2 linked regions of the Homo sapiens genome follow. The protein of the gene in region 1 purifies or fractionates together with the protein of each later gene. This does not show direct contact. Each region holds a gene or a part of one and is shown in the gene's direction. Other genes may lie near its edges.

Region 1 (4,270 bases):
CATGAAGTTTGCAGTAATTCCTTGTAACAGTAACAGGAAAATAATACATAGATTTAGCAAACAAAACAAAATCCAGGATGCCCAGTAGTCATATTTGAATTTCCTATAAACAACAATTTTTAAAGTATAAATGTGTCCCAAATGTTGCATAGGACACACTTATCTGTGTGTATGTGTGTGTGTGTTTGGAAAGGAACATGCTTAAATGTTTATCTGAAATTCAAACTGTAGTGAATGTTATATATTTTGTCTGTCAATCTTAGAAGTGATGAAACTGAGAGCAGGAGTCAAAACTCATGATTCCCAGGTCGCCTCCATACTGCTGCCCCCTGCCCCTCAATCTGGCAGAAACTGCCACGTTCTTGTGGCCCTCATGGGTCACTTCCCATCTTCTTGGGACTCCTCTTGCCCCTGGGGTAGGAAAATGAAAAGACTGTTTAAGGTCGTTTCTTTAGGCTCAGAGTTCTCCTGGACCACCAGAGGTTCTGCCTCAGAGGGACCTAGGAGATTTGCCTCAAAGTTGCAGTTGCACAAAATACTTGCGGGCGGATCTTAATGGACTGGGGTGGGAGTTAGTAAAGCCTTTGTCTGGAGGGAACGTAATGAACCCCAAAGCAGGAAAAAAGTAATTATTGAATCAGGCTCCAGAGCAAGAATCAGGTTTCAGGTAAGGAAACGGAAGCACAAGAAGGAATGGGGACTTGCTCCAGGTCACTCAGTTAATGACAGACAGATGTCCCCTGGTTTGGAGTCTCCCTTTTTGGAGCAGCTAGTCCTGATAGCAGCCATAGTGGGGGGAAGTCTAGAATGCTAATCCTGAGGTCCGGGTTTGAAGCCCTTTACTGCCTTGATTGCCAGTTTCCCTTTCCTGAAATAGGGGAATTGCATAAATATGAGGAGTTAATGAGATCATGGATGTTAAACAACAGGTACATGTTAGCATGTTCTTGGAAAATGGCAGCTTCTTTCCTTCCTTCTCTGAGCCTCAGTTTCCCCATCTATAAGCCGGGTTTGACAAGCGGCTGGTGCCCCAGCTCCTCCCAGCCACTCCAGGTCCGCAGCTCGGAGCTCCGGCAGCCAGGTGGGGACTGAACACCAACGCCGCGGGGAGGCGTCGCACATGCGCGCTCCTAGGCGGAGCCCCGCCTCCCACGCCCTGGATCGTCACTTCCGGCGCGAGAGGCCGGGCAGGCCGGGCAGGGAGTGCGGGTCGGTTCTGCGTGCGCTGCCGGACGAGGCTCCCGCCGCCGATTGACCCGCGCTCCGCCCGTAGTCGGGCCGGTGAGTGCCCGCGAGCCCATCCGTGTGCCCTGGGAGCTGAGGAGAGGGACCCCTGAGAGGGAAGGATAACCGGAAGTGGGGACCAGAGGAGCGAGAGACCCCAGGAAATGGGGACACCTGGGGAGGGGGTGACAGCCGGAAGTGGGGGCCTCGGAAGGTTGTCCACGGGATATGGGGTCTCGGGGGCTCTAGGAGAGATGGCTTCCTGACCTCTCCTTGTTGAGAGGAAGGGGTGGAAAGGAAAGTGATGCTCCAGAAAGGATGGGCTCCAGGTGGGGGAGATCTTTGGCTTCACCGTTACCAATGGTGTCTGCATCTCACTCATATGTCCGCCTGTCAGCTCATTCACCAGCCTGTGACTGAGTCCTGCTGAGCGCTCGGCACTGCTGAGTCCCTGGAGAGTCAACATGAAGCTCCAGGTGGAGGGTACAGATTAGAAGCCCAGGGTGGGGCTAGACGCATCCTTGCTCTGCCTCACCGGGTGTGCCCCCTTGGGCGAATCGCTTAACCTATATCCTCCGCTGATGTGTACAGACCACTGCCATGTGCCCGGCACTGGGGGTGGCAGTGGACATGGCAGACAAGCCCTCTGCCCTCGTGGAACTTAGATTCTAGGGGACAGTCCTTTTTGTCCTCCTTTGTAAAATGGCAACAGTAATAGCGCTCTCACCAAATAACGTGAAGATTAAATGAGGAAATGGGTAAAGGGCTTAGCAATGCTTGATACATGGTAAAATGCTCAAGTATGCATTCTCTTCATTCCACTATAATGTAAGCTTTATTAGGCAAGGAATTGTATTGTTTGCGTCTGTGTTCCCAGTGCCTGTGAGCACAGTGCCTGACATATATGGTAGGTGATCGGTAATTATTTGATAAATGAGTGCGTGGTGAAACTGACTCTAGATAAATGCCCATAGCATTGGACTGTAATTTCTAAAAAAGAAATAGGAACCCAGTTCTGTGGAAAACTGGAGGGAATCACCCTCAGGGAGTTTGGGAAGGATTCACTGAGGTGGTGACATGGCAGCTGAGCCTGAGCTGTCAAGTTAGGAACAAATTAGAAGAGGAAATTCCAGGCAGAGTGTATCAGAAGTGCACGAGTTATTCCAAGGATGATGGGTTATTAGTTTGTTTTGACTGGCATTTAATGTGCATCAAGGTGGGGTGCGATGGAAAATGAGGCTGGAGAGGGGCTTTGAGGTGAGGCTTGTACCTTGTGAACACTGATGTTTGATGGGATTGCAGGCATCTCTTGGTTACTTCCATAGAAACAAAGCCATAGTTGTTCCATTCCTCACTTAGCATACCTGTGCCAACCAGACTAAAGTCATTCAACAAATATTTATGGAGTGCAGATTATGTGTCTAACACCATGTTAGGCGCTGGGTTTCAGGTGATGAACAAGACAAACTTGGATGTTGCTCACAAATTGCCAACAGACAATTGCAACAGGGTGGGAGAAGTGCGGGGGAGGCACCTAACCTGGCTGGGGGTCAGTGAAGGCTACCTACTCCAGGCCACCAGCATCTCTCAGCTGGATTATTGCAATAGCCTCTAAATGGTCTGCTTCAGTCCTCACTCCCTTAGAGTCCATTCTCAAGACAGCAGATTGGTCCTTTTAAAATATATTTTTATTTATTTATCTATCTATCTATTTATTTATTTATTTATTTATTTATCTGAGATAGCGTCTCGCCCTGTCGCCCAAGCTGGAGTGCAGTGACATGATCTCGGCTCACTGCAACCTCCGCTTCCTGGTTTCAAGCGATTATCCTGCTTCAACCTCCCAAGTAGCTGGCACTACAGGCCCGCACCACCATGCCTGGCTAATTTTTGTATTTTTAGTAGAGACAGGGTTTCACCATGTTGGCCAGGCTGGTCTCGAACTCCTGACCTCAGGTGATCCATCCACTTCAGCCTACCAAAGTGTTGGGATTACAGGCATAAGCCACCACACACAGCCCAAGAAAAAATTTAAAAATTAGCCAGGCGTGGTGTGTGCCTATAGTCCCAGCTACCTGGGAGGCTGAGGCAGGAGGATTGCTTGAACTTAGGAGTTCGAGGTTGCAGAGAGCTATGATTGCGCCACTGCACTTCAGCCTGGGTGACAGAGCAAGACCCTGTCTCTCTCTTAAACAAAAAAGTGCATGAGTTCAGGTCCTCTAAGAAGCAGACACTAGGATGAGGTTAGACGTGCTAGAAATGTAGAGGCAACCCTTGCGAAGGACAGCACCTGGGAAGGGAGCTGGAGAAGTCAGGAAGAGCCACTGGCAGTGATGCAGATCAGCTCCTGTGAAGGAGGTTTGGGCAGCAAGTCTCTGACTGCAGGGCAGTCCCAACAAAGGTTTGGCCAGGCCCTCAAGCAAACGCTGCCTGTTAGAGGAGTCCTATGTCTCACTAAATCATTGGCTAGGAGCAGTGAGGCCACAGAAGGGCTGTGGAAAGTTCTGGCTTCCCCTGGATAGTGGATCTAGAGGGACAGCCACTGGGGCCCTTTATCAATTACGTTTTCCCAGCAGATCTGACCGGCACATATTCCCGACTGCCACGATAAGTTACATGGGTGTGTAGTAAAAAATTCAAACAGTATAGTAAAAATCCTCTTTCTCATCTTAAATCTTCACTTGTCCAGTTCTGTTCCAAGAGATAACCATTGGTAAGTTTCTTATATCTCTTTCCAGAAGTTTTGTGTGCATTCACAAGTGTATGTGTATAGTTTAAAAACGTGATTTTCTGTACACTATTCTGCAACTTGCTTTTTTAATATGTCAATTCATAAAGATCTGCCTACTTTTCGCTTTTTTTGTTTGTTTGTTTTGAGAGGGAGTCTTGCTCTGTCACCCAGGTGGGAGTGCAGTCATGATCTCGGCTCACTGCAAGCTCTGCCTCCCGGGTTCACGCCATTCTCCTGCCTCAGCCTCCCTAGTAGCTGGGACTACAGGCACCTGCCACCACGCCCGGCTAATTTTTTGTATTTTTAGTAGAGATG
Region 2 (3,809 bases), on another chromosome or scaffold:
CTTGAGCCCAGGAGGTTGAGGCTGCAGTGAGCCTTCATCACGCCACTACACTCCAGGCTGGGTGAAAAAGTGAGACCCTGTCTCAAAAAAAAAGTGTTATCTCACATTTTTCCTGGGCTACCCTGCCTCTGGGTGTCTTGCTTTCATAGAATCCTATCTTTGTGAACAGTTATACCAAGCTGAGTAAAATACAAGCTAACAGGCCTTAGAATTGGTTGTCTGAGTATGGGGTTGACAAAAATAACTACTACCTATGCATTCTTAGTGGCCAAAAAAAGAGTACCAGCATGCAGCGATGCTGGGAAGCCTTGTTAATAATATAAAGCTTTTGTTCACTACATCGTCCTTTCAGAAGATGTATAACAGTGTCCCTAATTCCAGGAGTGAATTTTATATACATTCTGGGAGTTCACACTTTTATCTGGCAAATTCATAGGACTTAAATCTCAGGCAGATGAAATGTAGTCTACTACTTTTACAAGTATACCTTGTATTTCAAGAAAATCTTATCCCATCCTCCAAACCTGATATAAATACATTTATTCTTTGTCACTCTATATGCCTTTCCCTCCTCCCACATACTCACATGGTTCTTTCTAACCTTCCAGATTCAAATATTAAAGACATCTGAGGTCACGCAGCATCTGCCCAGGGAGTGTCTTCCAGAAAACCTGGGTGGGTACGTCAAAATTGATCTCGCCACTTGGAATTTCCAGTTCCTACCCCAGGTGAACGGCCACCCAGATCCCTTCGATGAGATCATCCTGTTCTCCCTCCCTCCTGCCTTAGACTGGGACTCAGTACATGTTCCAGGTCCCCATGCTATGACCATCCAAGAGTTGGTGGACTATGTTAATGCCAGGCAAAAGCAAGGAATCTATGAGGAATATGAAGACATTCGTCGTGAGAACCCTGTTGGCACTTTCCACTGTTCCATGTAAGTAGAAAAAGTTTGGGCCAGCAGCTGGTTACCAGGATGCTTCTGGTAGGCTCTGGCAACAGCTCCTTCCACCCCTCACTTGCTTAGCAGAGACCCTTCCTTATGTTAGGGAACATCACTCTCACATAAATGATGGTTTCTCGCATGCAGAAAGAGGTACTTTCTGCTTTGGTGCTTCTTTTTTTTTTTCTTTTTTTTTTAAATTTTTATTTTTTTTATTGATCATTCTTGGGTGTTTCTCGCAGAGGGGGATTTGGCAGGGTCATAGGACAATAGTGGAGGGAAGGTTGGCAGATAAACAAGTGAACAAAGGTCTCTGGTTTTCCTAGGCAGAGGACCCTGCGGCCTTCCGCAGTGTTTGTGTCCCTGGGTACTTGAGATTAGGGAGTGGTGATGATTCTTAACGAGCATGCTGCCTTCAAGCATCTGTTTAACAAAGCACATCTTGCACCGCCCTTAATCCATTTAACCCTGAGTGGACACAGCACATGTTTCAGAGAGCACAGGGTTGGGGGTAAGGTCACCGATCAACAGGATCCCAAGGCAGAAGAATTTATCTTAGTACAGAACAAAATGAAAAGTCTCCCATGTCTACTTTCTACACAGACACGGCAACCATCCGATTTCTCAATCTTTTCCCCACCTTTCCCCCCTTTCTATTCCACAAAACCGCCATTGTCATCCTGGCCCGTTCTCAATGAGCTGTTGGGTACACCTCCCAGACGAGGTGGTGGCTGGGCAGAGGGGCTCCTCACTTCCTAGTAGGGGTGGCTGGGCAGAGGTGCCCCTCACCTCCCGGACGGGGTGGCTGGCCAGACCCCCCCACCTCCCTCCCGGACGGGGCGGCTGGCCAGGCGGGGGGCTGACCCCCCCACCTCCCTCCCGGACGGGGCGGCTGGCCGGGCAGAGGGGCTCCTCACTTCCCAGTAGGGGCGGCCGGGCAGAGGCGCCCCTCACCTCCCGGGCGGGGGGCTGACCCCCCCACCTCCCTCCCGGACAGGGCGGCTGGCCGGGCGGGGGGCTGACCCCCCCACCTCCCTCCCAGACGGGGCGGCTGGCCGGGCAGAGGGGCTCCTCACTTCCCAGTAGGGGCGGCAGGGCAGAGGCGCCCCTCACCTCCTGGACGGGGCGGCTGGCTGGGCGGGGGGCTGACCCCCCCCACCTCCCTCCCGGACGTGGGGCTGACCCCTCCACCTCCCTCCCGGACCGGGCGGCTGGCCGGGCGGGGGGCTGATCCCCCCACCTCCCTCCCGGACGGGTCGGCTGGCCGGGCGGGGGGCTGAGCCCCCCACCTCCCTCCCGGACGGGGTGGCTGGCCCGGCAGAGGGGCTCCTCACTTCCCAGTAGGGGCGGCTGGGCAGAGGCGCCCCTCACCTCCCGGACGGGGCGGCTGGCCGGGCAGGGGGCTGACCTCACCTCCCTCCCGGACGGGGCGGCTGGCCGGGCGGGGGGCTGACCCCCCCGACCTCCCTCCCGGACATGGGGCTGACCCCCCCACCTCCCTCCCGGACGGGGCGGCTGTCCGGGCGGGGGGCTGACCTCCCCACCTCCCTCCCGGACGGGGCGGCTGTCCGGGCGGGGTGCTGATCCCCCCACCTCCCTCCCGGACGGGTCGGCTGGCCGGGCGGGGGGCTGAGCCCCCCACCTCCCTCCCGGACGGGGCGGCTGGCCCGGCAGAGGGGCTCCTCACTTCCCAGTAGGGGCGGCTGGGCAGAGGCGCCCCTCACCTCCCGGACGGGGCGGCTGGCCGGGCGGGGGGCTGACCCCACCTCCCTCCCGGACGGGGCGGCTGGCCGGGCGGAGGGCTGACCCCCCCTCACCTCCCTCCCGGACGGGGCGGCTGGCCGGGCGGGGGGCTGACCCCCCCACCTCCCTCCCGGACGGGGGGCTGACCCCCCCCCCACCTCCCTCCCGGATGGGGCGGCTGGCCGGGTTGGGGGCTGACTCCCCCACCTCCCTCCCGGACGGGGTGGCTGGCCAGGCAGAGGGGCTCCTCACTTCCCAGTAGGGGCGGCTGGGCAGAGGCGCCCCTCACCTCCCGGACGGGGCGGCTGGCCGGGCGGGGGGCTGACCCCCCCACCTCCCTCCCGGACGGAGCGGCTGGCCGGGCGGGGGGCTGACCCCCCCACCTCCCTCCCGGACGGGGCGGCTGCCGGGCGGAGACGCTCCTCACTTCCCAGACGGGGTGGCTGCCGGGCAGAGGGACTCCTCACTTCTCAGACGGGGCGGCTGCCGGGCGGAGGGGCTCCTCACTTCTCAGATGGGGCGGATGCTGGGCGGAGGGTCTCCTCACTTCTCAGACGGGGCGGCTGGGCAGAGACGCTCCTCACCTCCCAGACGGGGTCGCGACCGGGCAGAGGAGCTCCTCACATCCCAGACGGGGCAGCGGGGCAGAGGCGCTCCCCACATCTCAGACGATGGGCGGCCGGGCAGAGATGCTCCTCACTTCCCAGATGGGATGGCTGCCGGGAAGAGGCGCTCCTCACTTCCTAGATGGGATGGCGGCCGGGCAGAGACGCTCCTCACTTTCCAGACTGGGCAGCCAGGCAGAGGGGCTCCTCACGTCCCAGACGATGGGCGGCCAGGCAGAGACGCTCCTCACTTCCCAGACGGGGTGGTGGCCGGGCAGAGGCTGCAATCTCGGCACTTTGGGAGGCCAAGGCAGGCGGCTGGGAGATGGAGGTTGTAGTGAGCTGAGATCACGCCACTGCACTCCAGCCTGGGCACCATTGGGTGCTTCTTGCTAACATCCTATGCTCTGAAATTTCTGAAGGTCTTTGGTACCAACAGGATAACCCTGTTGGACATATTTTTGGATATTTTTCTGAAATGCAAGTTTTTTTTAAAAAAAGTAGGTTCAAAATAGGCT

What was found.
Region 2: the proteins of TTPAL (region 1) and PTPN9 purify together in Homo sapiens (affinity purification with mass spectrometry; one large-scale study listed by BioGRID and IntAct). This does not show direct contact.

Annotation. Positions count from the first base shown.
Region 1 is NC_000020.11:44,474,711-44,478,980, forward strand, and holds the start of TTPAL (alpha-tocopherol transfer protein-like), read left to right. Parts: upstream 1-1,163; 5' UTR 1,164-1,281; exon of another isoform or gene 1,282-3,937; intron 3,938-4,270. UniProt on the Homo sapiens protein: May act as a protein that binds a hydrophobic ligand.
Region 2 is NC_000015.10:75,502,803-75,506,611, reverse strand, and holds part of PTPN9 (tyrosine-protein phosphatase non-receptor type 9), read left to right. Parts: intron 1-608; coding exon 609-937; intron 938-3,572; exon of another isoform or gene 3,573-3,609; intron 3,610-3,809. UniProt on the Homo sapiens protein: Protein-tyrosine phosphatase that could participate in the transfer of hydrophobic ligands or in functions of the Golgi apparatus.